Linked DNA regions of Homo sapiens: regions 1, 2, 3, 5, 6 and 7 are each reported to be linked to region 4. The links are microRNA targets in miRTarBase. Many come from high-throughput screens and were not tested one by one. Region 4 holds a microRNA gene; each other region holds the end of a gene's coding sequence. Distances are from middle to middle.
What was found. The annotated mature microRNA hsa-miR-1827 reads UGAGGCAGUAGAUUGAAU and lies in region 4 at 1,498-1,515, shown strand. An mRNA with a match to its seed (bases 2 to 7 or 8) in the 3' UTR can be bound and repressed. Matches are read on the target gene's strand: a 7mer-m8 pairs with bases 2 to 8, a 7mer-A1 pairs with bases 2 to 7 and ends in A, and an 8mer does both.

Region 1: the mRNA of SLC35E3 is a reported target of hsa-miR-1827. Seed matches in the 3' UTR shown: 8mer at 2,458-2,465 and 8mer at 2,593-2,600.
Region 2: miRTarBase lists SFMBT2 as a target of hsa-miR-1827. Seed matches in the 3' UTR shown: 7mer-m8 at 410-416 and 8mer at 1,030-1,037.
Region 3: miRTarBase lists ZNF638 as a target of hsa-miR-1827. The part of its 3' UTR that is shown has no 7-base or 8-base seed match.
Region 5: miRTarBase lists NUP155 as a target of hsa-miR-1827. Seed matches in the 3' UTR shown: 8mer at 2,239-2,246, 8mer at 2,212-2,219, 8mer at 806-813 and 8mer at 500-507.
Region 6: miRTarBase lists CSDC2 as a target of hsa-miR-1827. Seed matches in the 3' UTR shown: 7mer-m8 at 885-891 and 7mer-m8 at 1,764-1,770.
Region 7: the mRNA of SH3RF2 is a reported target of hsa-miR-1827. Seed matches in the 3' UTR shown: 7mer-m8 at 518-524.

What each region holds. Positions count from the first base shown.
Region 1 is chr12:68,764,238-68,768,303 of GRCh38, forward strand. SLC35E3 (solute carrier family 35 member E3) reads left to right here. Exons shown (of 5, transcript NM_018656.5): 5 at 467-4,066. The coding sequence ends at 653. Among named protein-coding and RNA genes, the nearest start is that of SLC35E3, 20 kb to the left of the region's middle.
Region 2 is chr10:7,159,981-7,164,039 of GRCh38, reverse strand. It overlaps SFMBT2 (Scm like with four mbt domains 2), which reads left to right. Exons shown (of 21, transcript NM_001387889.1): 21 at 130-4,059. The coding sequence ends at 270. Among named protein-coding and RNA genes, the nearest start is that of SNORD129, 25 kb to the left of the region's middle.
Region 3 is chr2:71,434,464-71,438,529 of GRCh38, reverse strand. It overlaps ZNF638 (zinc finger protein 638), which reads right to left. Exons shown (of 28, transcript NM_014497.5): 28 at 3,469-3,788. The coding sequence ends at 3,723. Among named protein-coding and RNA genes, the nearest start is that of DYSF, 30 kb to the left of the region's middle.
Region 4 is chr12:100,188,435-100,192,500 of GRCh38, forward strand. MIR1827 (microRNA 1827) reads left to right here and starts at 1,450; the gene lies at 1,450-1,515.
Region 5 is chr5:37,288,166-37,292,231 of GRCh38, forward strand. NUP155 (nucleoporin 155) reads right to left here. Exons shown (of 35, transcript NM_153485.3): 35 at 1-3,873. The coding sequence ends at 3,735. Among named protein-coding and RNA genes, the nearest start is that of CPLANE1, 41 kb to the left of the region's middle.
Region 6 is chr22:41,574,264-41,578,329 of GRCh38, forward strand. CSDC2 (cold shock domain containing C2) reads left to right here. Exons shown (of 4, transcript NM_014460.4): 4 at 470-2,403. The coding sequence ends at 632. PMM1 (phosphomannomutase 1) reads right to left here. Exons shown (of 8, transcript NM_002676.3): 7 at 3,545-3,660; 8 at 2,637-3,177. The coding sequence ends at 3,055. Among named protein-coding and RNA genes, the nearest start is that of PMM1, 14 kb to the right of the region's middle.
Region 7 is chr5:146,062,240-146,066,305 of GRCh38, forward strand. It overlaps SH3RF2 (SH3 domain containing ring finger 2), which reads left to right. Exons shown (of 10, transcript NM_152550.4): 10 at 187-1,053. The coding sequence ends at 462. The region is part of intron 1 of LOC107986458 (a long non-coding RNA gene); the gene reads right to left. Among named protein-coding and RNA genes, the nearest start is that of PLAC8L1, 41 kb to the right of the region's middle.

The DNA.
Region 1 (4,066 bases), 31 Mb from region 4:
TTGTGTCTCTGATGAATCAATCGCTAAAACCTACCTGAAGAAACTAAGAAGTTCCCATTATTCTCTTTTTTTAGACAGTCTTGTTCTGTCGCCTGGACTAGAGTGCAGTTGTGCATTCTTGGCTCACTGCAACCTCCACCTCCTGGGTTTAAGTGATTCTCATGCCTCAGGCTCCCAAGTAGCTGGGATTGAAGGCATGTGCCACCACGCCCAGCTAATTTTTGTATTTTTTGTAGAGACAAGGTTTCACCATGATGGCCAGGCTGGTCTCAAATTCCCAGCCTCAAGTGATCCACCACCTCAGCTTCCCAAAGTGCTGGGATTACAGGCATGATCCACCACGCCTGGTCCCATTGTTCTTTACATCTGATGGGCTGCTTTTGGGTTGTTTTATGCAGTGCGAGTGTGTGTGTAAATATTAACATCTATCTTGTTATTCCTTTTTATCCTTATCCAAAAACCTCAGCTATAACATGTTCGGACACTTCAAGTTCTGCATTACTTTATTCGGAGGATATGTTTTATTTAAGGATCCACTGTCCATTAATCAGGCCCTTGGCATTTTATGTACATTATTTGGCATTCTCGCCTATACCCACTTTAAGCTCAGTGAACAGGAAGGAAGTAGGAGTAAACTGGCACAACGTCCTTAATTGGGTTTTTGTGGAGAAAAGAATGTTGTCCCAAGAAGATAAAAAATATTGTTAAGTGTGCAAGTTATTAAAAAAAAAAAATTGGGCCAGGCACGGTGGCTCACGCCTGTAATCCCAGCACTTTGGGAGGCCAAGGCCAGCGGATCACTTGAGGTCAGGAGTTCGAGACCAGCCTGACCAACATGGAGAAACCCTGTCTCAACTAATAATACAAAATTAGCCAGGCGTGGTGGCGCATGCCTGTAATCCCAGCTACTCGGGAGGCTGAGGCAGGAGAATCACTTGAACCCGGGAGGCGGCGGTTGCAGTGAGCCGAGATCGTACCATTGCACTCCAGCCTGGGCAACAAGAGCGAAACTCCATTTCAAAAAAAAAAAATTGGTGACAGACTCAATGATGGAATGATTTGTCGGAATTAACACAAAGCAGATTTTATTCATATAATGACTTTTTTTTAAGAGTCTCTTTTTTAAAAAAACTTAATTCTCTAAAACCGAAATGGTTCATGCTTCTTTTTAAAAATGATTGTATAAAATGTATGGAATGGTTAGCCTGGTGTGGTGGTGCACACCTGTAATCCCAGCTACTTGGGAGACTGAGACATGAGAATCGCTTGAGCCTGGGAGGCGGAGGTTGCAATGAGCCAAGATCGTACCACTGCACTCCAGCCTGGGCGACAGAGCAAGACACTGTCTCTCTCTCTCTCTCCATATATATATGTGTGTGTGTGTATATATATATATATGTGTGTGTGTGTGTGTGTATACATATATACACATATATACACACACACATACATATACATGTGTATATATATACCATCCCATATATATGTGGGATATATATATATATATATATGGATATGGTTATATATATGGGATGGTTTGGTTGGTCCCAGCAAAGTATATGAAAATTAAAGTTCTGTGATAATGACAAAGGAATTGCTGTTACTGTACTGCAAATATGCTGTGGGTTCTCGGTGTTCAAACTCTTCTAAGGAAGGACACACAGTAGCTCTCTGCTTGCTGATAGATGGTTTCCCAGTGTGAGATTTGTTATTTTGATCAGAGTATTCAAATCAGAATTTAAATCTAGTGTTTCTATTTTAGTTTAGCTTCCTGATTTATATAAATGAAATCTCATTTATAAAGTATAATAAAGATGACTGTAAGACAAAATCCAATTCTAAAAGTATGATTTTTTTCTAGTAGAAAATTGATGTAAGAAATCATACATTATTCATACATTTATAGGTCATCTCTTTGAGTTTTCAGTGAACTATAGAAACTATATGGAGTTAAAAAACAAAACGGCAGCCAATCTCAGTGGCTCACACCTGTAATCCCAGCACTTTGGAAGGTTGAGGCAGGCAGATCACCTGAGGTTGGGAGTTCAAGACCAGTCTGACCAACATGGAGGAATCCCGTCTCTACTAAAAATACAAAATTAGCCAGGCATGGTGGCACATGCCTGTAATCCCAGCTGCTCGGGAGGCTGAGGCAGGAGAATCGCTTGAACCCAGGAGGCAGAGGTTGTGGTGAGCCGAGATCATGCCATTGCTCTCCAGCCTGGGCAACAAGAGTGAAACTCCATCTCAAAAAAAAAAAAAAAAAATAGCCCTATGTTTAAATGGCTCAAAGAAAAGACTATAAATGGAATTGAACATGTTTGTTAGCTGTTTGAGCATTTTATATTGGTAAATTTTTTATTTTCTTATTTTTTGTCTTACAGTCGACCAGGCTGGAATGCAGTGGCACAATCATGGCTCACTGCAGCCTCAGCCTCCTGGGCTCAAGCAATCCTCCTGCCTCAACCTCCCCAGTAGCTGGGACTACAGGTGCACACCAACATACCTGGCTGATTTTTATATTTTTTGTAGAGACAGAGTTTTGCCATGTTGCTCAGGCTGATCTCAAACTCTTGAGCTCAAGCCATCTGTCTGCCTCAGCCTCTCGAAGTGCTGGGATTACAGGCCTGAGCCACCACACCTGGCCAGTAATTTCTTAATCCTACCTCCCTGCTTCTATTGCCTAGCCCGTACATTTGAGGCTTCCATGGAGCTTTCTGTGGTACTGAAACACTTGGAGTGAACTGCAAACTTGGAGTGAACTACATCCAACCTTTCTAAGGTGGCTGGGGAAAATTCTTGTACAGCAAGTTGGGACAAAATAGCCATATAGAAACAGCCATATAAGATCCCAATATAGAAAAATTGGGATATTAGAGGAAATACATGATTTCCATTTATGGAGTGCTACATGTTTGCAAAATGTATTTCTGCTTTTCATCTTCTTGACATCTGAATATTAAAAGCAGTTGTTGATAATTTCATATAATAAATTGAGACATATCATTACTCTTGTAATAATTCATTTTCTAAATGTTATTTATCAACTTTCATGGAGAAAACAACTCTTAGGAGAACAAAGACCAGCCCGGGCAACATGGCAAAACCCTGTCTGCAAAAAATACAAAAATTAGCCGGGCCTAGTGGCACGTGCCTGTAGCTCCATCTACTCAGGAGGCTGAGGTGGGAGGATTGCTTGAGCCCAGAAGATGCAGGTTGCAGTGAGCCGAGATCATGCCACTGCACTTCAGCCTGGGCGACAGACTGGACTCTGTCTCGGGAAAAAAAAAAAAAAAAAAAGGGAAGAGCGACAAAATATACCTTTTGATAAGACAGTAAATTTTATGTTTTGTGTTTTTTAACACAATAAAAATATATATACACACATATAATATACCTTTGGGGTTTTTAGGATTTTTTTTTCCTGGACTCTGAAATGAGAAGCCTCGCTGAAAATCTGTTTTGGAGAATTCCAGTTTGTCAGTCAGTCTCTTGTGTAATTAGTACGTGTGGCTTCCTTCTTTGTTTTAAATATTCTTTGGTTCTTCTCATTTTACAAAGATATATATTTTTTGTGCTAAGGACAGAGCAATTAGTTTTTACCAGATAAGCCTCGGGTATTATGTTTGTCTAAGAAACATTCTCTGTGTATGTTTAAATTGTAATTATTTCCCAAAAGCTGAGGAAAATGTTTCAGCACAGTGAGGATTTGACGTCTGCACTGAGAACAGCTGAGTTTATTTGTGCCATTTAGAAATTCGTAACTGTAGGCTGGGCGCAGTGGCTTACGCCTATAATCCCAGCACTTTGAGAGGCCAAGGCGGGTGGATCACCTGAGGTCAGGAGTTTGAGACCAGCCTGGCCAACATGGCGAAACACTGTCTCTACTAAAAATACAAAAATTAGCTGGGCATGGTGGCGGGCGCCTGTAATTCCAGCTACTCGGGAGGCTGAGACAGGAGAATCACTTGAACCAGGGAGTCGGAGGTTGCAGTGAGCCGAGACTGCGCCATTGCACACCAGCCTGGGTGACGAGAGTGAAACTCTGTCTCAAAAAAAGAAAAAA
Region 2 (4,059 bases), not on the chromosome of region 4:
ATCCCCTGAATTGAATGAAACAAGAGCATCCTGTTGTCATGTTTGGCCCCGGACTGGAGCCTGCTGTGACGCATCTGTGTACCCCAGTGCACACTGCCCCTTCTCTAACCTGCCTTTCTTTTCCTGCAGGATATTGACGGCCAAGCACTCCTGCTTCTGACCCTTCCGACGGTGCAGGAGTGCATGGAGCTGAAGCTGGGGCCTGCCATCAAGTTATGCCACCAGATCGAGAGAGTCAAAGTGGCTTTCTACGCCCAGTACGCCAACTGAGTCTGCCCTCGGGAGGTGGCCCATTATTGCTGGGATGCGGTGTTGGTAAAGGTTTCCAGGACTGAAACTTTGATTTTCCGGGATATGTTAAATGGTACAGCCACTAAGTATCACCAGAAAACCAGAAGCCCAGGATCTTCTGCCTCCGCCAGCCTGTGAGCTGTTTCCATGTTTTCAAAGCACAGCAGCAGTCGCTTCTGGGGAGTGCCAGTTAAAGTCATGCATCAGACCCTGCCAGACGTGGGCCTGCTTCTTGGCTCACCCACGTTTTGCCTTTCTCCTGCCCCAAATCAGGCAGCTCCCTTGGAGCAGGGTTTCCTCAGATGAGGACTGCATTCTTTGAAAACAAAGAATGTCGCCAAGGAAGAAACCTCACGCCATGCTGTAGTGTTTCCTGTAATCACACGAGCACATTTATATATGCAGTTTCCCATGGATAGGCGTGTGACCCTGGTTGAGTGGCACTTGCGGTTTCATCTTGGTGGCAACTCCTTTGCAATGCAGCTGGCAGCGACATCCTTATAAAAACATGTGCTAAAGCTCTGTCCTCTGTTAGAGGTGCCTTTTAGGAATACGGGGAGTGAAGGAAGGCCGGCAGGCATCTCCATGCAACTAGATGGTTTGTTTGTTTGTTTGTTTGTTTGTTGTTCATTTTGTTGTGTTTTTTGAGACAGGGTCTTGCTCTGTCGCCCAGGTTGTAATGCAGTGGCGCAATCTCAGCTCACTGCAACCTCTCTCTCCCGGGTTCAAGTGATTCTCCTGCCTCAGCCTCCCAAGTAGCTGGGATTACAGGCACCCACCACCATGCCTGGCTAATTTTTGTATTTTTGGTAGAGACAGGGTTTCACCATGTTGGTCAGGCTAGTCTTGAACTCCCAACCTCAAGTGATCTGCCCGCCTCGGCCTCCCAACGTGCTGGGATTACAGGTGTGAGCCACTACGCCCCGGCCCAACTGGATGGTTTTTGATTGAAGCCTAGAACATCTGTAGAGACAAACTCTACCCAGTCTTTTCTAGACCCTCAACTATCTCCAGTGTTGTTGTTTAATCGTAGCCGGATCAGGGAGTGAGTCTTTTAGGCAAATGTTGGATTATATATCAAAGGAAAAGCTTAGTTTCAGAGAGGAGGAAGGGAAAGAGATGTGAGGGAAGCATTTCATCAACCAGCTACGTCCCCCTTAGAAGGATCACTGCAGCAGGTCACCGAGCAGGAGTCCCTCTGAGCGTCCCTTCTGTCTCGTTCTGCCCTAGCTGGCAGCATATGAACCAGGCATGATGCAGCAGGAGCAGTGAATCTGGAGTCAGCCACTTGGCACCCTGGTTTCGCTGAGAACAAACTCTGAGATCTTGGGTGACTTCTCATCACTCTGGACCTCCATTCCTGTGAAGTGACAGGTGTGGACCCTGAGGGTGCGGTGGTGAGCACACTGTCTCCTGCTGGCATTCACCCCACTCATGCTGGAAAGGAAGATCCAGATCGTACAAAAATTAGAAAAAGAAAGAATAAGAAGGGTCTGGTCCCAGTTCTGACTCGGCCATTCTTACAGCTCTTTCTGGCTTTGAGTTTGCTTGTGGAATTTCCTGGGCAGTTGTGTTAAATCCGCCAGGTCACGTGCAGACAAAGCTGTGGCTGCGAGAGTTGGCTGGCCTCTTGGACCAGAAGCCATCTCCATATCCTCATGAGCGATTCCATATCTCCACTCAGACCCTGTGGACTACAGTGTTCCGCTGTGGTGGCTGCCAAGATGCCTTCTTAAACTTATGCAAGGAAACCAAACCCTCCCACAGTTCCCAAGCAGACACTGGAAGCAGAGGCTTCTCACCCTTCCTGCTTTTTCACCACAATCACCTTGAGCTCGTCCCTTGGACTAGAGTCTCCACAGTTCCAGTAAAATTCTGCGGTGGGCTGATGAGCTGCTTGCATTTCTGTGACATTTCCAGATATGATTCTCAGTGGGATTTTGGAAACTTTGATTGCTCAAGCTCACCCTTCTTAACATTCTGTAATGGTTACAGATGAGAATGGAAAACACATATTTTATGGATGAGGCGTTTTGGTCTCCCCTGCAGTCGATTTCTAGAATCAAGTTTTAGAGTTCGGCTGATGCATCTGCCTGGGGACCTCAGATGGGAGGAGTGTGTCAGTTGTACCCCGACAGAAATGTCTCTGGGATCTGTGGCTGGCTTGCCCCGGGCATCTCTCCTTTAAGCTCAAGTTTTGAACTCTCTGCGGTTTTCCACCCCTGCCTTCTCAGCCACATGCTTTTGGCCTTAAACGCTCAGTCTTGTGGAGTTCAACTCTGTCAAACGATTGGAAAGGGCATCCATTTCCAGATCTTTGGCATTTTCCCCGCGCTGACTCTTTGATGATCCTTCACTGTGGCCTTTTCAAGCTCAGCTGTTCCTGTTGTATTTGAGACGAGGGTGAGGGAATGTGGTGGCCACAAAAGAACAGGGACTTGCAGCACAAATGTCACTTCTGTCTCCCTTTTCAGTGGTAGCACGGAGGAGGAGGTGCTGCGTTGGAGGGAGGGGATCCTCCAGGAGCTCTCTGGAGCCCATCTAGGAAGCTAGAGTGTGTGGCCCGCCAGGAGCTCAGGAAGGATACAGCCACTGTCGCAGGGGAAAGTGTTTGCTTCCCGTGGAGCCAAGCGCCCAAGACTCTCCGTATCCTTCACCCTGACAGTTTAACTTCAGCGTTTCTCTGTGCAGTTGCGGTCACCATGGGTGAGCACTGTCTGTGCACGTGCCAGGGAGGAGATGGCTGGGACCACTGCACAGGAGGGCGCAGCCTGGCGTCGCCATGAAAGTTGTCTCTGTGCCATCTCTCCGGTCCTTGAGGAGAGCCCAGAAAGATTTTAGGACCCAGGAGGTGCTTTTCCTCCAGCTGTTGCCAGTGTCCTTCTGAGCCTGGATTCTCCGGGGATTTCCGTCGTGGTGGATGGACTTCACATCAGCAGCAGTTCTGGTACAGAATTGTAATGTGTTTTCATTTCTCTGTAGGATTCACCTCTCACCAGCGTCTGTCTTAAAGGTAGGGCCAATTTCATGGAGCATTTTTCTGTGTGTGTCCTTGTTGCTTTTGCCAGAAAAAGTGGATTTGACATGCGTGCCCCGATGCCACCATAGCCCCTAGGCCAACAATGTCATGGTCTAAACACCAAAAAGTGATGCCCCGCATTCCTTCCCTGGATGGTACCGTTTCTTCTCCGTCTCTCTTTGATGATTCTTTGGGACCAAAGTCCTCTCCTTAGTGCGCCTACTTCCTGTGGGCATCATGCCACTTGGAACTTATTGGAACTGGCCCGGGAGACTCTGCAGTCTGCGCCGTTTGAAAACCCTGAGAAAGAGATGCCACCTCAACTTGAATCATGACAGCCCATCGCTCAGTCTCACCCTAAACTCATGGAGCTTGTTTCAGCTCCTCACTTCTTGACTGTATTTGTACTATGTTGAAAAAATATCCTGTCCACAAAGACATAAGCCTAACAACCTAGAAAAACAACAGGGTACTACTGGCATTACAGAACTTCTTTGCCTTTCAAAACAAAAGCAAAACACAGTGAACTTCACCACGGAGCTGCACAGCGTGGGGAACTCATCCATCACTTTCAAAATTAGAGTCATTTGATCCAAGTTGGAGTCAGACACAGTATTTGAGCTGCACGGCTTCTGGGTTCTCCCACCTTATTTGATCATATTCGAAAGATTATTTCCTGTGTTTGCTTTGATTTGTTCCTCAGTACATTAAAATGATCCACACCTTGAACACTGCCCTCTCTAGAAGGT
Region 3 (4,066 bases), not on the chromosome of region 4:
TCACTTGAACTCAGGAGGCTGAGGCTACAGTGAGCCAGGATTGCACCACTGCACTCCAGCCTGGGTGACAGAGAACCCTGGTCTAGAAAACAAAACATACACTTCAATTTCCATCTATGGGAAAGCAATAACCAGTCCAGAAGCAATGAACACACCTAATCAGCCACTGTTCTTTAGAGAAGTAGCTGACCCCAGGTCTGGAGAAGTGAGCCTGAAACATCTTGACATACAGATAACTACTAGTAGAAATGAGGAAATCAAATCAAATGTGGGACATATAAGGATCAATAACACTAATACTGCAGAGGTTTCAAACATCAAATATGTTAAAATTTACAAGTTCATACTAATGCTTAAGAAAAAATTTATCACAGTGGATGCCAAAGAATCAACTCATTCTGAAAAAAATAGGTAAGTAAAGGAAAAGCATCCCATATCTGTGTCTTTCTTACACAAACCGTACCGCTAGTAGCCAAATAGCAGATGAGGGGGAGTTTCTCCTTGCAGAGAAATATTCCTGCTTACACATGAAAAAGGGATATAGAATTAAGATATCATTATTTTGCAACCCCTAATGAACAAGTGGATCAAAACTAAGCATCAGCTGCTACTCAAATCCCAAAGAAGGCAATCAGTTTGCGCCTCCTATCGGGAAGACCACATCACTGCCTAAAGTAGTCTCATCAAAAAAAAGAAAGAAAAAAACAAACTCTAATCAAGTGTCTATATTTACTTACCAATTTATGAGCTACAGAGAGAGCAAGGGACACGTTAAAGGTACTACATGGTTGCAAGCAACAAAGTCAGACCTGGGGAAACCTGTCAGCAGTGCTTCTCAAACTATGTGCTTGATCAGTTTTCTTTTTCTCCCTAATTTTCAATTAACTATAGACCAATAATTCTGTAAAATACAAAAAAAAAATTTTTTTTAAAAACCCCACAAAAACATACAAACTCCAATTTTTTTATTGTTAGATTCAATAAATGAACATAAAATCACTGTCAAAATGTTTCTAGAAACTCTCAATTTCTGTACTTCAGTAATCATAAACTAATACTAAAGTTTCTGAACTGGCACTGCCCTGGGTCCCAAGACATTTTGAGCAGCACTGCTTGGCACAGCCAAGAATCTAGTTTCTTTACCAAATAAATTACAAGGACGGAAGTAGGGAGGGAAGAACCTATATATTCAAAATAGTATAATTTAAAGGACCTACCAGCCAGTCACAATATATGGATCTTATTTGAATCTGGATTCAGACTTAGTAAACCAACAACCACAAAAAAACGATTTATGAAACAGTTGAAAATCTGAACCAAACTATTATTTAAATAAGAGATTTTTTAATGGTACTGGATATTTTTAATATAAGGGTTAAAAAGAACTCATATTTTAGAAATACACAATGAACAATTAACGGGTAAAACATACTGATATTTAAAGTAATACAAGAGAGTTGGGAGTAGAGATACACACAGACAAACACAACTGGCCTTAAGTTGATAATTATTGAAACTAATTAATGTATGAGGGTAATTATCCTATTGTCTTAATATGCTTGACATTTTCCACAATCAAATAACAAATCAGTAAAATTAAAAATTTAAGTTTTAAAAACCTGACTCCCCTATAAATGTTTTTTAAAGAAGGATTAAAAAGGAGTAATTTTGGAGAGGCAAGTTTCCACAGCATCCTAATGCCAGAAAGGGTAATAAAATCTAAAAACTTTTATAGAGATCATGTTGAATGTAAACTTTTTTTGCCTTGGAGTCTAGATGCTGAGTTTGAGACCAGCCTGACCAACAAGGAGAAAACCTGTCTCTATTAAAAAAAAAAAAATACAAAATTAGCCGGGCGTGGTGGCACATGTCCGTAGGCCCAGCTACTCGGGAGGCTGAGGCAGGAGAATCGCCTGAACCCAGGAGATGGAGGTTGCGGTGGGCCAAGATCGTGCCACTGCACTCCAGCCTGGGCAACAAGAGCAAAGTCTCAAAAAAAAAAAAAAAAAAAAAAAATTAAGTCAGCTGCAATCCTAATTATATCCCTCAATCAACTAATAAGCAGAAACTACTATGTATATGACGTTCCATTTGTGTGGTGTGACTAAAGGAGGAAGATTTTCTGAAAATGCCAAGAACAATACTAAAATTATATGCAAAGAGCATGTTTATTTTCTGAAAACCTCATACAAATCTTTTGTATTTGAAGCCCTATGATAAAAATTACCAGCATTAAGTGCAAAAAGTCCCAGAGAAAAACATTATTTATAATGTACAATTAATGGTCAACATTGGTCACTAGGATAAAACACAAAAATCACCCCTACCATTTTTATGCTTTAGCAGCTCCTCCTCTCATTCTAATTTAGAATCCCAATTTCAAAAGACTGATCCAGACAAGATTAAAGAAGCTTATAACTTCCCTAGTTGCAAAAGTTCCAAAAGCAAGCTGAGGAGAAAGGAAGATTCTTTAAAACTAAGATTCTTATTCACTATCACTGTGCTTCTGTAATTTACAGGCACCTTATTCCCCAATCTTTTAACAGCTCTTCTCCCTCTTATTATCCGGATTCATCTGTAAGGTTTTAATTCCAACAAACTCTTGACAGCAAGCCGCTCCTCTCTCTACCCCACCCCTTGTCTGTGACGTGTAGCATTCTGTAATTTTACTCAGGCTGTGGGTAAGTCTCGACTAAGTATGCAGTGAGTTTCATAGGAGGTGACAAAGAGGTGCTGCCTTTTTTTTTCTCCAAGCCCTTCTTACTGACTGTGATGTCTCTTGTGCTGTGATGGAAATAAGACATCTAAAAAAAGTAGGGTTTTTGTTGTTGTTGTTGTTGTTCCCCTCCATTCATCCTCTTTGTATTATTAATTGGTGCACTCTATCTTGAGGCATCAAATACTAAAACAATTATAAGTATTCAGACTATGTCTGAAGAATGGCTCAATCTAAAAACTTAAAAGTATAGGGCTATTTCCATCACCTGCTAGCCATTCAATTATTTTTTGTGCCCTTAAAACTTCTTATAAACATATTCAACTATAATTCAAATGGTTTAAAAAGCTACTCTGGTGGTCCACAGAAGTAATGGCTGCTCTGTAGATTCAAGCTAATAATAAATGACTAGCTTGGTGTTACCTTAAATGGGTTCTGGCAGAAACAGCAAGTGTTACCAGAAGCAGAAAAAATACCTTTCCAACACATATAAAAATCAAGCAAAGTTTCATTCAAACCTATTTGGGGAAAATATGCTGTAATCTAATTTTATCCAGAAAAAATTTGAATTTTAAGAAATCTATGACCTGTATACACATGAATGGTTGAAGCAAAGTAAAACACTGTCATGCTATGACTTCCAGTGATACATGAAGAATCCCCAAACATCCCAAATCACAGGAGTTGTAGTGAAAAACCTTGTCTGCAATCAGAGGCAAGCAAGTCTTTAAAAAATCAGCCACAAACACAGATGGTATTTTAAATATACAGTAGGAACATTTATTTTAACACTTCTAAAAGATATTTCTCCATGCCTGATGATTTGATATAAAAATCAAACCCATCATACTTTCCCCATCAGTCTCTCTACATTTAGGGCAATCAGAAATTTGTACAACACGAATATTTGCTTCTGAAACGAAAATTACAAATTAAATGATAACAAAAATACACAAATCAACTGGACCCTAAACAAATTTCTAGTGAATTCTTTCCTTTCCCCCAATCACCTAGAGCTTCTTTCTTCAGCCTCATTCTGCTCCTTTTCCTTTCTTTGCTTGGCCATGAATTTCTGTTAAAAGCAATTTGCAATATAAAATACTTATTAGACGTTATTTTGCTATGTGTGCAAACTTATCTACTGTATATTTATAATTTAAAAGAAACTGATCCTACAAAATATTATAAACACAGTGCCTTATATAACCATTTCTTCCTTTCATTCATCAGTCATTTGATGTTTATGACACACCAGGTATTACACTTGGTGCCTGAGGATTCGGTGGGCAACAAGACAGATAGAATCTTTTATACAATAAAGCTTACATTCTAATGGGAGAAGAGAAACAA
Region 4 (4,066 bases):
GAGGGGGAGAGGAAAATGCAGCAGGGAGGGAGGGAGCACCAGCTGCACAGCCAGGCAGTCCTGCAGAATGGGCTTCTCTAAACTTGAGTGGTGACCCACTGTGGGCCAGGATATCAAATTAAGAAGATAAGAAGTCAATTTTGAGGGGACAAGCATTTTTTTTAGTATTAAAAGAGAAAATAGTACTTAGCTTTACTATATGTAGCAGTGACATTTTTCTTTCAGTTTTATGTACATACTGACAGTATACATTTACATACAAAGGTGTATTATCTGCTGTCGGTTCCCAGTCAAAAAAGTGAACAACACTGTGTCCGAAGGTAACATCCTTCCCAGTGTCCAGAATTGGTTCCTTCTGGTGGGTTCTTAGTCTCGCCAACTTCAAGAATGAAGCTGCAGACCTTTGCGGTGAGTGTTGCAGCTCTTAAAGGTGGCACGGACCCAAAGAGTGAGCAGCAGTAAGATTTATGATGAAGAGCGAAAGAACAAAGGTTCCACAGCATGGAAGGGGACCCGAGCAGGTTGCCGCTGCTGGGTGGGGTGGCCAGCTTTTATTCCCTCATTTGTCCCTGCCCACATCCTGCTCATTGGTCCATTTTACAGAGCGCTGATTGGTCCATTTTACAGAGTGCTGATTGATCCATTTTACAGAGTACTGATTGGTGTGTTTACAATCCTTTAGCTGGACACAGAGCACTGATTGGTGCGTTTTTACAGAGTGCTGATTGGTGCATTTACAATCCTTTAGCTAGACACAGCGCTGACTGGTGTGTTTACAATCCTCTAGCTAGACAGAAAAGTTCTCCAAGTCCCCACTCGACCCAGGAAGTCCAGCTGGCTTCACCTCCCACCAGGAGGCCAAACAAAAAGGACAGTGCTGAGAGGAACCATCGTCCTGCTAGGGAAGGGAGTGTGGCACAAAGGCAGGTGGGTGTGGGCAGACCCCCCCTGCCACGGGTGTGCAGGGCAGAGGATGATGAGCCCCAAGCAGCAGGAGCAGGAGCAGTAGAGCAACTCTGCCCCTGAAAGGGTCTGGAGCCTTCCCTCATCACTCTTCCTCAAGTCGATGCTGGACACCCACTATGTACCAGGCCGTGTGAGGCACTGGGGTAAACCAGAGACAAGACAGACAGGGTCCCTGCCCCATGGAGCTCCCAGCCTTGCAAGGGAGCTAGACCACAGATGAGTACACAAAGAAATACAGTAACTACAGGCAGTGGTAAGGGCTGTGAAGGAGAAGCACGGCAGTGAGGAATGGGAGGAACAGGGAAGGCTTCTCTGAAGAACGAACAGAAGTAACCAGAGAAGAGACAGCCCGCCCTGCAAAGGGACAGCCTGAGGCAGGGCCTGTCGGGAAGACAATACATCTGAAGAACTGCAAGAAGTCAAGTGGGCCTGCAACAGAGGAAATGACAGGAGTCAGACCCCATGGGACCCTGAAGGCCATGTTCAGCAGCACAGCCTTCAGCCTAAAGCAATGAGAAGCCTCTGAAAGGCTGAGGCAGTAGATTGAATTGATTCAGGTCCCTTAGAATTGGGTCCCTGCAACAGGTGGACCCAGGACCGGCAGAGAATGCAGATAGGCGCCCCTCCTCAGCCCCCAACTCTAAATATAACAGAAGACATGGCTCAGTTGCTCCCTTGGTGGCCCTGGACAAGACAGGCTGAAGTTCTCTGAGCCTCCGCTTCCCATGCTGAGTCATGGTGAAAGGTCTCTGAGTCTACAGGCCAAAGCCACTGCTCCTCTCATGACTGCAGTGATTTCCATGGACAGTGTTATGCAACGGCGGCCCTTCTGATACGTGGGGCCCTGGGAGCGTGTGAACTGATCGAGACCAAGAGGACTGATGGGACACAACTGCTAAGCACAACCTCATGCTCCTGGGAGCTATCAAAGAAGACCAGGCACCAATGCAGCAACACACACACACAGCCCAGCCAACTTCCCGCAACTGCTGAAACTCCACGGGCCCAAAAGCAAGTCGCCTTCCTTCCTGCTTCCTTCTCTAGAAGGTCTGGCTTTAAAAATGTCACTGTGAGGCAGCAGCATGGTGACTACATGCCTTGTCTTTCTTGGCAGACAGAGCCATGCCTTCCAACGAGGAAAATTACAAATACCACGTTATGGCTCCTGGACAGGAACAACTTCTCCCAATTCACCAAACATCTGTGTGCCTGCTTTGAGCTGGTTTGCGCCCTCTGCTGCAAACAGGGGCTGAAGAGACGAGTCACTGTCACGACTTTAGAGTCCTAGACACTAAAACCATAATAGATTCTTGGGAACCCCCGCCGTGCTCACAGATAACTCTTTCTACCAGGCCTGAGTGGGTCAAGAATGAAGCAAAAACTAAGAGTCAGAGCAGGGCCAACTGCAGGGCCCGCAGAAGACCTGTGGGAGGGAGGCCTGGAAGGAAGAGCACACCTTCCCGGCCAGCTCAGCCCTCACAACTGCCCTTGAGAAAGGCACCCTGTCCACTCCACCCAAGGGAGTGGAGACACACTTCACCTACTGGCTCAAAAGAGTCAGAGGGGCAACAGTGGCAGCAATGCCAGCAGGCCTGGGGTGTGTAGCCACCATTTACAGAGCACTTACAATCAGTCAGGCAGTGTGCTAGGCATTTCTTATTTGTAACCTTAACAACACTCTCACTGATCCAGAGAGGGAGAGGTTTACACACACACACACACACACACACACACACACACACACACACACTCCAAGAGGATATGAGGGCTTAAAGCTTGGGTTAGGCAATAAGCATCTGGCATCCTCTAAGCATGAAAGGCACAGTAGTGAACTATACTGACAAAATCTCCTCCTAGGAGGTGATGCTCTAGTAGGACACAACAGCAGATGCTCAAAGACTAGATCAGGGAGCAAAACCATCCTGAATCTCTAGCCGACTGAGGGCCCCCTGTGCTGGCTGGTGAGCTACTGCCTACTGGACAATCATGAAAGCCACAGTCTCCCTAGGGATCCTCTCAGCTCCTTGCCCCTCAGATGGTCTCACACAACCGAGTGCTCAGGATGTTTACTGAACTGAGCACTTTAGGCAGAGTATTTCACAGAACACTAGTTAGAAGCCACTAATTAGTCACGACTACCTAGTTTACCATTTCCACAATACATTCATTCTGTGAAAGTAAACGAAACCCAGCTGAGGGCTAGCCTGATACGATATAGGTAAACACCCAATCAAATATCATTAAGACCCCACTACATAAATACCAGAACTGAAAATTGCTAATGAAAATGCCCTTCCCTCTCCCAGTCTGAGATACAATGGCAGGGTCCTTTTCTTTCTTTAGAGGAAGGGGTTGTTACTGTCTATATTTTGTTCTGACTGGAGGTGGGAAGTCTGCACCCCAGTGCCTCAAAGGTAAAAGCGTCTGACCAAGGACACCTGTCTACCCTCATCAGATGCCTCAGTGAGGTGGGAGCTGGTACACCTCCACCCCGAATGCATCTGACCCCTCCTTTCATTTCTCAAGAAATTGTTATCTCCATGGTGGAAGGAAACTGGCAATGTGCATACAAGCAAAGCAAGTGCAGCAGGAGAGAAGTCAATGCTAAGGGCCATTAGGAATCCTTCAGGAAAGGAAGTCCACCGGGGTGGGGCTGGCCCCAGCCACACATACCTGCCAAAGTGAGCTTCATCCATCACAGCACCCCCAACTCAGAAACAATTAAGAAGCAACTGCTCCAAATAGGTTCAGCTTTGCATTTATCTACTTTTAAATGTTTGCCAGTACATAACATATAAATACTTCAACCCTTCATACACAAACAAGATAATCCTCCAACCTAGTTAAATAAAAATACTAGGCATGACTAAACCATCATCAGTGCCACGGTCTGAATGTCTGTGTCCCCACAAAATTCCTATGTTGAGACCTAGTCCCCAAGATAATAGTAGTAAGAGTGAAGCCTTGTGGGAAGTGATTAAGTCATGAGGGCAGACCCCTCTGGAATGAGATCAGGGTCCTTATAGAAGAGGCCAGAGTGGTAAAAGGGATTTCAGGAGAAAAATACACTTAGCTAGGTAGCTAGATACATACATACATA
Region 5 (4,066 bases), not on the chromosome of region 4:
ATTTAAAAGAAGACATTAATAGAAAATGAAAAGAAATTGTGAACCCTTTCAAAACCTTTCAATTCAATGTTCTAGTTCTTCATTTCCTTGATACAACTCTGTACCATGGTCATAATTTTTCCGTCTCATGAATAGGAGGAAAAATGACAGGAATGGAGACTACCCTGAGGAATACTTTTGAGATCAGTGGATAGGTGTTCAATGAATAAGTCAGGTATACCTAAAGAAACACTAAATGTACATGTACATCAGTCAGTATCTCATAGCATAAACAGTTAGTCAAGATAGCTTTCTCTTTCCTAACCGTTTTGCCATACTACAATGATCTAGTTAAAATACAAATTTCACAACTTCAATGATTCTTCACTGCCCACAATTAACGCACTGTTTCATAGACTATGTTCTACCAATTATACATTGCCTACATATAATAGTCACTATAAAGAAATAATGGACAGGCATGGTGGCTCATGCCTATAATCCCAGCACTTTGGGAGACTGAGGCAGGGGAATCACTTAAGGCCAGGAGTTTTGAGAGCAGTCTGGGCAACAGAGTGAGATCTTTTGGCTACACAAAAAATTAAAAAAAAAAAAAAAAAAAAAGTAGGGGGGGTGGGGCTAGGCGCAGTGGCTCATGCCTGTAATCCCAGCTCTTTGGGAGGCCAAGGGGGGTGGATCACCTGAGGTCAGGAGTTCAAGACCAGCCTGACCAACACGGTGAAACCCCATCTCTACTAAAAATACAAAAAAAAAAAATTAGCCAGGCATGGTGGCGCATGCCTGTAATCTCAGCTACTCGGGAGGCTGAGGCAGAAGAATTGCTTGAACCCAGGAAGTGGAGGTTGTGGTGAGCCAAGATCGTGCCATTGCACTCCAGCCTGGGCAACAAGAGCAAAACTCAGTCTCATAAAAAAGGCTGTGGTGAGCCAAGATTGTGCCATTGCACTCCAGCCTGGGCAACAAGAGCAAAACTCAGTCTCAAACAAACAAACAGACAATAGCAGGGTGTAGCAGCACGTGCCTGTAGTCCCAGCTATTTAAGAGGATGAGGTGGGAAGACTGAGTTGAGCCCAGGAGCTCGAGGCTGCAGTGAGCCAAGATCATGCCACTGCACTCCAGGGCAAGCCCTTGTCTTCAAAAAACAAAAAAATTCAAAAAAGTAATGCGTTGAACAAACACCAAGTACAAAGTATACTAATACAGTGGATAAATGCTACTCCAACTCTGATCCACTGACTGCCAGGATCAGCATGACACTACAGATGGAACTCAAGAATCTGTCATAACAGGCTATCCGGCTGATTGTTCTGAATGTGAAAGTTTTAGAAACACTGTTCCAAGGGTAAAAATGAGGGGACCTAATTTCTTCTCTCTTAGGAATCTTACCCCCCAAAAGGTATTGCAAGCATCTGTTGTGGGGCTGGAATTCCTAAAACCTCTCAAAGCATGCTGTGTGAATAAAAGGACAGTGTTCAGATTTCTGACTCTAACAGACCATCTAACCATGGAAGCCTACAGCCCTTTTAAAACATGTACTTTCAATGTTGTGAGCTGAGTATATATAACAACATATTGCTAGTATGTAAATGTGCTTAAAACAAAAATGAAGTTCTTATCTCTAGCAGAACTGGAGTCACACCTAAATTACAACATTCAGACAAGGCCTTCCTTTTAAGTAGACATGACAGAATTTTAAATTTATAAAACGAATTAATGTATCGCATACATTCACTTTACATATTCAAAAAACGCTAAACTTAAGAAACTGAAAAGTTGAAAAATAAGAGGTAGTAGTACCCACTGAGTGACGTTCTGGCATTCTATTAAATATTCTACATTAGAAGATTATAGGGAAAAGGGAGCTGAATTCTAAGAGAACAAATGTAGAGAAGGCAACCCTATGGTCTTGGGAAAAGACAATAATGGAAGGAAAAATATATTCAAAATGTATTGTACAAATTGTTAGACATGCATCACTTACAATAAACAGAAGGTAATTATTTGTGGTAGCATAAAGAGAGAAGGGAATAGGCCAGGCACATTGGCTCACGTCTGTAATCTCAACACTTTGGGAGGTGGAGGCGGGCAGATCACTTGAGGTCAGGAGTTCAAGACCAGCCTGGCCAACATGGTGAAACCCATCTCTACTAAAAATACAAAAATTAGCTGGGTATGGTGGCGCACACCTGCAATCCCAGCTACTCGAGAGGCTGAGGCAGGCAAATTGCTTCAAACCTGTGAGGCAGAGGTTGCAGTGAGCCGGGATCGCACCACTGCACTCCAGGCTGGGCTACAGGGTGAGATTCTGTCTCCAAAAAAAAAAAAAAGAGAGAAAGGAATAGAGTGTTTTGTTAGCTCTGGTCATTCCCACTCTTCTTCTCTCTTGTTGCTATTACTTTGAAGCATTTGGTTTGGTTATTCTATTTTGTTAAGGAATAATTAAAAAGTACATTACTAACAGTTTTGCTTTATATATTGTGTGCCTTGGGCAAAATTTGTGTGTGTGGTTATTCACAGAGGAGGAGCCAGATAGGTAGCTCAGTCCATAAACTATGGAAGGTAGCAGTATCCTTTACTGCAGTGGCTTTCAAATTTGACATGCACCAAAATCTCCTGGAGAGCTTGTTAAAACATAGAAAGCAGGGCCTCATCCCCCACGTTTTTGATTCAGTAGGTCTGGGTTGGGGCTCGAGAATTTGCATTTCTAACAAATTCCTAGGTGATGCTGATGCTGATGCTGATGCTTCTGGTTTGGAGCACATACTTTGAGAACCACTGCTCTAATGGAATCAGTAGTCACAAGGCCAAGCAGCCAGGTAGACACTAAGGGAAAACAGTACCTCCCTGTGTAGGTTTTCAGGACACAACATTAGTTACAAGTTTTATCACCTGCTCAACCAGGTATATAGCTATGTCAATTCTCAAGGGCTTTAACTGACAAAACCAGTTGTTAGAGGACAGTTCTTTCAAGGGTGAACCCAACACCTAAAAAAAGTTTTGAAAAAGTCAGTTATTTGCCTATTTAAGGACGGTTTTAGAATCCACTATTATGGGAATGGATCTGCTTAGCCTATTTGAGGTTTTTTTGTTTTTTGAGACAGAGTCTCGCCCTGTTGCCTGGGCTGGAGTGCAATGGTGCGATTTTGACTCACTGAAACCTCTGCCTCCCGGGTTCAAGTGATTCGCCTCCCTCAGCCTCCCGAGTAGCTGGGATTACAGGCGCCCGCCACCACGCCTGGCTATTTTTTTTTGTATTTTTAGTAGAGATGGGGTTTCACCATGTTGGCCAGGTTGGTCTCAAACTCTTGGCCTCGTGATTCGCCCACCTTGGCCTCCCAAAGTGCTGGGATTACAGGTGTAAGTCACTGTGCCTGGCCGCCTAGTGGAGTTTTAATGCCAATATCCTTGGACTAACTTGAAAATGAATAATATAAATTCGAAATTTCTGCCTGCAGTACAATTCAAAATAAGAGTTTCTAAATTTTTTTAATCCTTATGTTAAAATAATAAATAATCTCATTTCAGTTGTTTTTTCACCCAATTACTAAAAAACAAAATAGTCATAAAAAAGAATTCATTTAGCAAAGGTACTATTTGTAGATATTAGCCACTTATTAAAAACATATTTCTATTAAGATTGTTCTTACATTCTTAGATTTAGAACACCTGATATCTGGACCCAGCTGAGTTTTTATTTTACAGATCATAAAACGGATGAAAGTATATCACAGTAATTAATGAAGCCGTTCTAATTTAGCTTGAAGAGATTTAAAATTCCCAGTGATGGCTTGTACTGCTACTGACGAGCTCATAGACTGGAGCTCAACAAGGTAACCACAAACAGCATCCAGGCAGAGATTTGTAAATCTTCTCCTACAACGAAAAAGACACATGATTAATTATACATTTACAAACATTTCCTCCTGCAGGACTTCTTCCCCACCAACTTCTGGCAACTTTAATTCTCACAGGAGAGGAAAGACCATGTGATTAAGTAAATAAGAAATAAAGTAAAAAAGAAAACTTGGGTGTAGGTGGGTTCCATTTGAAGATTTTTTTTTTTTTT
Region 6 (4,066 bases), not on the chromosome of region 4:
TTTTATTTTATTTATTTTTTGAGAGGGAGTCTCGCTCTGTCGCCCAGGCTGGAGTGCAATGGCACAATCTCGGCTCAGTGCAACCTCCACTTCCTGGGTTCAAGCGATTCTCCCACCTCAGCCTCCCAAGTAGCTGGAATTACAGGTGCCAGCCACCATGCCTGGCTAATTTTTGTACTTTTAGTAGAGCCAGGGTTTCGCCATGTTGGCCAGGTTGGTGTCAAACTCCTGACTCAGGTGATCCGCCCGCCTCAGACTCCCAAAGTGCTGGGATTACAGGCGTGAGCCACTGTGCCCAGCCATGAGTCCCGTTTTACAGATTCGAGAGCTGAGGTTCTGAGAAGCAAGGCCTGGCCAGGCCTCCTGGCCTAGGGAGGCTTAGGGCCAGGCTGCCCCCAAGGCCAGGCCACAGGATTGTCTGGGGCACAGGGCCTGCTGCTGGGCTAATACCCCTCTTCCTGCCCGCCAGCATCGAGGGGGAGTACGTGCCAGTGGAGGGCGACGAGGTGACCTACAAGATGTGCCCTATCCCTCCCAAGAACCAGAAGTTCCAGGCCGTGGAGGTGGTGCTCACTCAGCTGGCCCCCCACACTCCCCACGAGACGTGGTCTGGCCAGGTCGTGGGCTCCTAGGCTGAGTGGTTCACAGGCCAGCTGGCCGGGGGTTGGGGAGCCACACAGGGTGAACGGGCAGCAGCCGGCTCCATGCCCCACTGCCCTGGCTGATGAGTCCTTCGGTGGCCTCAGTGTGCACGTCTGTCTGTCCGTCTGTGCTTGTGGCTATGAGCGTGTGCCTCCACCCACCCCACGACCCGTGACTACTGTGCAAGCTGGCCAGGAGGTAGGTGGAGGGCAAGGCCACCAGACCTGGCTTCGCGCTGTCCACTGCCTCTCTCCTCCCCTCCCTGCCGCAGACACGCAGGACCCGCTCGCCCTCCTGCTTACCCGTCCCCACGGTGACTGAGCTGCGAGAGCCTGCGCTGGGCTCACTCCCTGGCCTCCGCCCCTGAGCTGTCCCGTGTCAGTCCCTGGCCCGGAGCCAGGCTCTCTGTGCTACTTACATCTCCCTCCCTTGGCTGAGGTCCCCCGCCACAGCCTGGACCCTTCCCTCAGAAGCCTGGCCGATGGGTGCTTTTGGGGAGCCTCTCAGCCTCTGGCAGGGGAGGAGGACTGACACGGAGGCACACAGGCCTCTCACTGCCGAGGCCAGCCTTCCTTCCTGCTCTGCTCTCTCAGTGCCATGGAGAGGCAGGAAGAGGGGCCTGAGGGCGGAAGGGGTTTGGGGCTCCCATTTCGCCGGCCAGTCCCTCCTCCTCAGCCTGGCAGTGGCGCTGGGCTCCTTCCCCTGGGCTGTACTGAGCCGAGCCCAGGGGTTTGCAGAGGGTGGGGGTCCATCTCTCCAGCTTGGCTGCAGACCTCCTTTACCCTGACTCACAAGCCCCACTGATGCTCTGGGCCATGCCCGGCTGACGGCTGCTGTGGATGCCGCGAGGGACGGACACACGTCCGGGGCACCCACGAGGAGGGCCCCCAGCCTGGGAGACTGGCCCTGCGGCCTCCACGTCAAACTCTCTTCCCAAAGCCCTAACAGACCAGTGGCCGAGGTGTGGCTCTTATTGCATCCATCCCTGAAGATGTGTGGCTGTTGCTGTCACCTGGAGTCCTTTTGGGGCCAAGATGTGTGTGCACCCGGGGTCGTGGCCATTCACTCCCAGGCAGGGGTGAGGGTGGCCTGGCCCAGGAGGCCAGGAAGGAGGGCCCTGTCTGCCTCCACCTCTGGGTGCACCCCCTGCCTACCACCCTCCCTTCTAGAGAGCACATCGCCTGACCGGGGAGAAGTGGGGCCGTGGTTCGAGGGAGGGCTGGCCAGGGGTGGGACCCTTATGAGACTCAGTCTGTGAGTAAAACTGGGGGCTCAAATGCCCAGGATGAGGGGATCAGTGACTGTCTAGGAGGATCCCTTGCCTTGTAGGTGCCCCAAGACCGCAGGGTAGAAATCAGCCGGGATGCCTGCATCCCACCCCCGGCCCCAGGGCCCACCACATAAAATCTGGGAGCCCAGAGCTGCTGAGGTGTGGTCAGCTCCCCTAAAATGGGCACGGCCCAGCCTGTCCCATGAGGAATAAAGGCCCCTGGCCCCCTTGAGAGAGGGCTTGTTGGTGAGGGCTGACTCCTGGGGGCCCCCAAGGCTCCCCTCCTGTGGGGAGGCCACCTTTTAAGGCACCACTAGCAGTCAGGATATGGTGGCATCAGCCCTGGGGCCTCCTGGGTGGCAGGGGGGCAGCAGCTCTCCTCCCCACTCACAGGCCCTGCAGTGCTCATTTGGAATTCCTCCCAAGACCCCTGGCCACCCAGACCCCCCATTCTTCCTAACACTGGCAATAAACCCTCAACTGTGACCCACCGTGGCCTGAAGCTGCCTCTGTGTCAGGGTCCCCAAGGAAGGGGCTGGGGGTGGACACACCAAACCAGCTCTTCTTTGGGGATTCAATGGCCCCCTCCTCGACTGCATCAGACTTCCTTTGTGACCTGGGCCAAGTCCCTGCCCTCTCTGTGCTGTTTACTTGTCGGCAAAGTAGTGGCTGTGACAGCATGTGACTGGGGCCAATTATCCATTCAGACACAGCTGACACCTACTTTGTTCTGGGAACTTTAATACTGTGACAAAGTTCTCTAAAATAGGCACCTTCCCCACCGTACCTCATCGCCCAGGGCAGGCAGGCAGGGCAGGCTAGATCTCGTACCGATACTTGAGCACGCCTCCTCCTGGTGCAGAAAGAAACCTCTTCTGTACCGAAATACAAGCAGCAGCTGTGGCCTGGGCCACCAGGTGGAGCATGGGGAACACTCTGGGCCCTGGGAGGACGAAGCCAGTGCCACTAGGAGCAGACTGGCTGGGGACGGTTGTCCACACAGACTCTGGCCCCATCTGGGTGGGCTTGCAGCAGGCGTCCTGGGCCAGAGGAGGGGCCCTGGCATCTATCCAACACCAGGACCTCTCTTTAGGCCTAGGCCAAACTCTTCAGAAGTCACGACACACAGATGTGGGCCCCGGTCACGCCTCATGAGCTGTCTCTGGGAAGAAAATCTCCCGGCATCGCTGCACCGTGTCCTGAGGAGACACCACGCTGTGGCCAACAGTCCGGGGGTCGGCAAAGATCTCAAAGTCGTTCCCACCCTGCACACAGAGGATGGGCAGAGGAGGGATATTTAGGTGGAGTCCCTCTCCACATTGGCTGCTACGGACCTGCCCCTCCTCCTGCCCCTTCAGAACTGCCAGGAAGCCCACCTTCTCACCCCTTGTCAGACCTGCCCTGACTTGCTGTGTGATGTAGAACAAGTGCCCAGCCTCTTGGGGCCCCAGCTTTCCAATCTGTGTAACGGGGCTGGTGAGCAATGGTTGTTCTCCAGGAGCCCCCTAAGAGGTCTGTTGTGTTGCCCCATGTTCTGGCCTTGACCTCAGGTGATTTGCATTGGAGAAGCCACCAGACCTGGCTTCTCACTGTCCACTGCGTTAGGGGAAACCTGGGGTGGGCCACACTCACAGGGCTAGTCTCGTTCCCAAAGAAGTGGATGGTGTCGAAGCTGTCCTGGTCCAGGCTATCCAGGCAGTAGCGCTTGTCCCAGCCCTCGGGGAAGACGTCAAAGCTGATCATGCCTCCTGTGGGCAGGGGTGGGGACTGTTATTCCCTGCTGGGAGGGGCAGACAAGGCTAACAGAAGGGCTGCTTGTTCATTCATTCATTCAACAACCCTTGAGTGCCTACTGAGGGCCAGGAATAGGACACGGGACAGACTTAGGATCCTCAAGGAAGTTATGACACAGGTTGGAGAATGAACAAGACCATGAAGTGGGTGGGGGAAGCTCATCCGGCCAGGGTGATCAGGGGAGACCTCTGAGGAGGTGGCAATGAGCTGGGACCTGAGCCGAGTGGGGATGGCTGGGGCGCAAAGTACAGCCCCTGAGGCAGGGAAGAGAACGAGCGTCCCAGCAACGGAGGAGGCCAGGAGAGGTAGGGGGAGGACGGGCAGGCCCTGGGCATCACATGGAGAGGGAGGAAGAGCCTG
Region 7 (4,066 bases), not on the chromosome of region 4:
TGAAGTTAGATGCTCCTCTGCATTCTCAGCATCTTGTACTTCCCCCATCTTAGCACTTGACACTCATGGTAGCCACAGATATTTGCAGAATGAACACATAAATGAGACATTTCAAGTGGGGACAAGCATGGGGAAATAGACATCTCCCACCTCACCTGTGTCCATTTCCTCTCCTTTCTCTTGCAGCAAGTCAAAACCGTGAGATTTCAGAATTACAGCCCTCCTCCCACCAAACATTACACCTCCCATCCCACCTCCGGAAAGCCTGAACAGCCAGCCACCCTCAAGGCGTCCCAGCCTGAAGCAGCGTCCTTGGGCCCAGAGATGACCGTCCTATTTGCCCACCGAAGTGGCTGCCACTCCGGACAGCAGACAGACCTCCGGAGAAAGTCAGCTCTTGGCAAGGCCACAACCCTGGTGTCCACTGCCTCAGGCACGCAGACCGTGTTTCCCAGCAAATGAACCTACGGGTGGCTTTTCCTAGACCCCAAAGAGGTGAATTGCATTTAAATACAGTCTGCCTCCACTGAGGGCATCCTGCCATTCTTTGGGGACTTGAGCATGGGTCCTTGTTCTTCCTATTTCACCTCCAGGAAAGCAAAAGTGGGAGCAGAAATTCCTGCCCTGGGTGGGAGGATAGATGGCGTGGCCTTCCAAACATACAAACATAATGATTTGATGCCACAAAGCTCGCTTACTCAGACCAAGGAGTGAAAAATTGTCGTGCCCACTTTATGCCCCAGCATGGAGTATGTGGCCTCTTGTCATCCCCGTGTTACTGTGTAGAATTTCTATGGTGTCCTAAAGGGGGCTGCAGCAGGGGTGTGACAACGGTGGGATTGTTGGCGTTGCTTCTTTGACCTTACAATATCCTCAACAAGCATTAGAACAACTTCTGCCATCTTCTGGGGCCTGTACACTGGCCACTAGTAGCTGCCATATCTTTTTCCCTCTGTAAAGTCATAATCCTGGCTGCAAAGGGAGGATTTCTGCGCGGGGTGTGAGGTGGATACTTTGAACATTCTGAGAACCCAATAAAACTAGAAGGAGCCAGCTTCCTGAGTATGCTCCACTTAAGAAGGTCAGAGAGATCACTGAGTACCAAATATCAAAGGATTATCATACTTTAAGCTTCTCGATCCATTTTCCCACATATAATCCTATGCAATAGATAAGCAGAAAGCATGTGGCTGTGGATAGGGCCATGTATGGCATTATGGACAATTAATTCATCCTGGCTCTACAGTCTGACTTCAAGAAAACACAGCGTGCTTACAAACAATCTTATATGGGGTTAGGGTTTAGATATATAGTCTGACTTCAAGAAAGCACAACGTGGGCCAGGTGCAGTGGCTCATGCCTATAATCCTGGCACTTTGGTAGGCCGAGGTGGGCAGACCACTTGAGGTCAGGAGTTTGAGACCAGCCTGGCCAACATGATCAAACCCCATCTCTACTAAAAATACAAAAATTAGCCAGGCATGATGGCGCACACCTGTAATCCCAGCTACTCTTGAGGCCGAGGCATGAAAATAGCTTGAACCCGGGAGGCGGAGATTACAGTGAACCAAGATTGCACCACTGCACTCCAGCCTGGGTGACAGAGTGAGATTCTGTCTAAAAAAAGAAAAAAGAAAAAAAGAAAGCACAACATGCTAAAAAACAACTTTATATGGGGTTGGGGTTAGGATCTATATTTGGATATATATTGTTTGCATTGCAATATTCCTGACTTTCCCTGCTTTCTTCTCACTTGGGGCAGATGAGCTATTTCACTCACAAGGCAACAACACCAGTGCGAACATGGCAGCCCGAGGCTGGGGTGGGAGTGCTTCCTAGGGGAAAGCTGCTATAAAAAGGGTAGGACAAAGAAGGCTGGAGGAGAAAACAGGGGAGAGGAGAAGGAGAAAGAGGAGGGGTTAAAGAAAATGTGGAGGAAAGAAAGTAGGCATAAGAGTAAGAGTGAAAGAGGATTGAGGGAAAGCACAGGAAGAGGCTAAAGGAGACAAGGGGTGGGGCAACCTTACATTCCCTGACAGGGTGAGGAAAGAAGGACAGAGCCTGCGATGAAGAATGGGGCAAAATTAGATGACCCCACTAAGATGGAACTGACGTGAGCAGGACCAGCCAGGGAGAGCCTTGTAATCAGGGTAGAGGAGGCATCCCAGGAAGCCAAGGCAATGCTGTGAGACAACCCATTAATTCTCATTAAACTTAATTGTTGTGATTTAACATTTATTGCATGCCCATCAATGTGGGCACTTTAACGCAGAAATAACATTTGCTACTAAGGCTGGGTGCCATAGAAAGAAAGAAAAAGAAAGGAAGGAGGGAAGGAAGGAAGGGGGAGAGAGAGAGAGAGAGAGAGAGAGAGAGGGAGAGAGAGAGAGGAGAGAGAGAGAGAAAGAAAGAGAGAGAGAGAAAGAGAAAGAAAGAAAGAAAGAAAGAAAGAAAGAAAGAAAGAAAGAAAGAAAGAAAGAAAGAAAGAAAGGAAGGAAGGAAGGAAGGAAGGAAGGAAGGAAGGAAGGAAGGAAGGAAAGGAAGGAAGGAAGGAAGGAAGGAAGGAAGGAAAGAAAGAAAGAAAGAAAGAAAGAAAGAAAGAAAGAAAGAAAGAAAGAAAGAAAGAGAAAGAAAAAGAAAAAGATGCAGGGAGGGAGGGAGGAAGGGGCATGTCTAATTAGACCTTTCCCCTAGATAGTTCTTGAAAGTCCTGGGATTCAAAACATGTATCTTTTACACACCCACTCACACACTCGGCAAACAGAATTGTCCACAGACTTTTTCCAGACCTTAATAAAACAAAACAAAACCATACTCCTCCCATAAAATACTGCCATTGTGTCAGACCTTTGGGGCTGGTAGAGCCAACATGACAGCACGTTGTTCTAGCTATCTCAATCACGTTTGGGTCCACATCTCACAAACTTTGGGTCAATATCTGATGTTTGTGGACCCAAACAAACATGAGATATTGACCCATTAGGTCCACAAAATCAACATGCCCAAATCCATGCCTCATTGAACTAAATATAATAATCCAGATGGAGAAATGAGATAAAGTCCCAAGGACAGGGAGGCATTGTGTGATTTGTCAAAATATAAGTACCTATACCTCATCTTTACCCAAAAAGCACTCTCAATGAGTTTAGCAATGTTTAGCAGTCTACTCTACACTCAGAGTGGCACAGATATGGCATGACTGGCCGACCAAATATTTAGTCTATCCCTCAGTGGCAATGTATCCAGTTAATTTTTAAGTTTTGTGGCTGACAAGCAGGGTGCTTAGATGGAATGGAGATGTCCATGCCTTCCAAATGAAATGAAATATTCTTCTCCCACCATCTATTTATTATCTCTTTGGGATAACCTCTCTGAGAGATGCAAACAACTCCAAGACTTGCCACCTCCACTCCCTCCAGTCTCTTCACCCATGTGCAGCATCAAACTCACCCTCTCCCAAAGAAAATCCCATCTTTGTGGAGTTTTAAGAGGGTTTGAAAGGGACAAAGGATGTTTTTTCCAAGTAAAAGTTGGCTTCACTGGCAGCTTTAACTCATTCATTCCACCAACATGCTTTGTAAATTTATTGTTTTATTTTTTGTAGAGATGAAGTCTCACTGTGTTGCCCAGGCTAGCCTCAAACTCCTCGGCTTGGCCTCCTCATGCCTTGGCATCCCAAGTGCTGGGATTACAGGCGTGAGCCACCACACCCAGCCCCAACATGTTTTTAATATTTACTGTGTGCTAGACACAGCAAGGAAGATGATAAACACATCCCCTCATGTAATTTCCACCATATCCCTATAAGGCAGGTAGATTGTCCCCATTTCAGAGCCAAGGAAACTGAAGCTTGAAAGTTAACCACAGATGATGGCAGAGCAAGGACACAGTCTCAAACTGTCTGACTTCAGAGCCCAACTTGGGACTTGCTCCATGAACCAAAAACCCATCCTTGACTTCAGGATGCTGACTCTGGACTGCCAGGAGGCAGCAGAGTGCATTTTTGGCTGCAAATGCGAAAGAGCCTAGAACGCTCGGCTGCGCACAAATACAGTTCAGGTCTTCA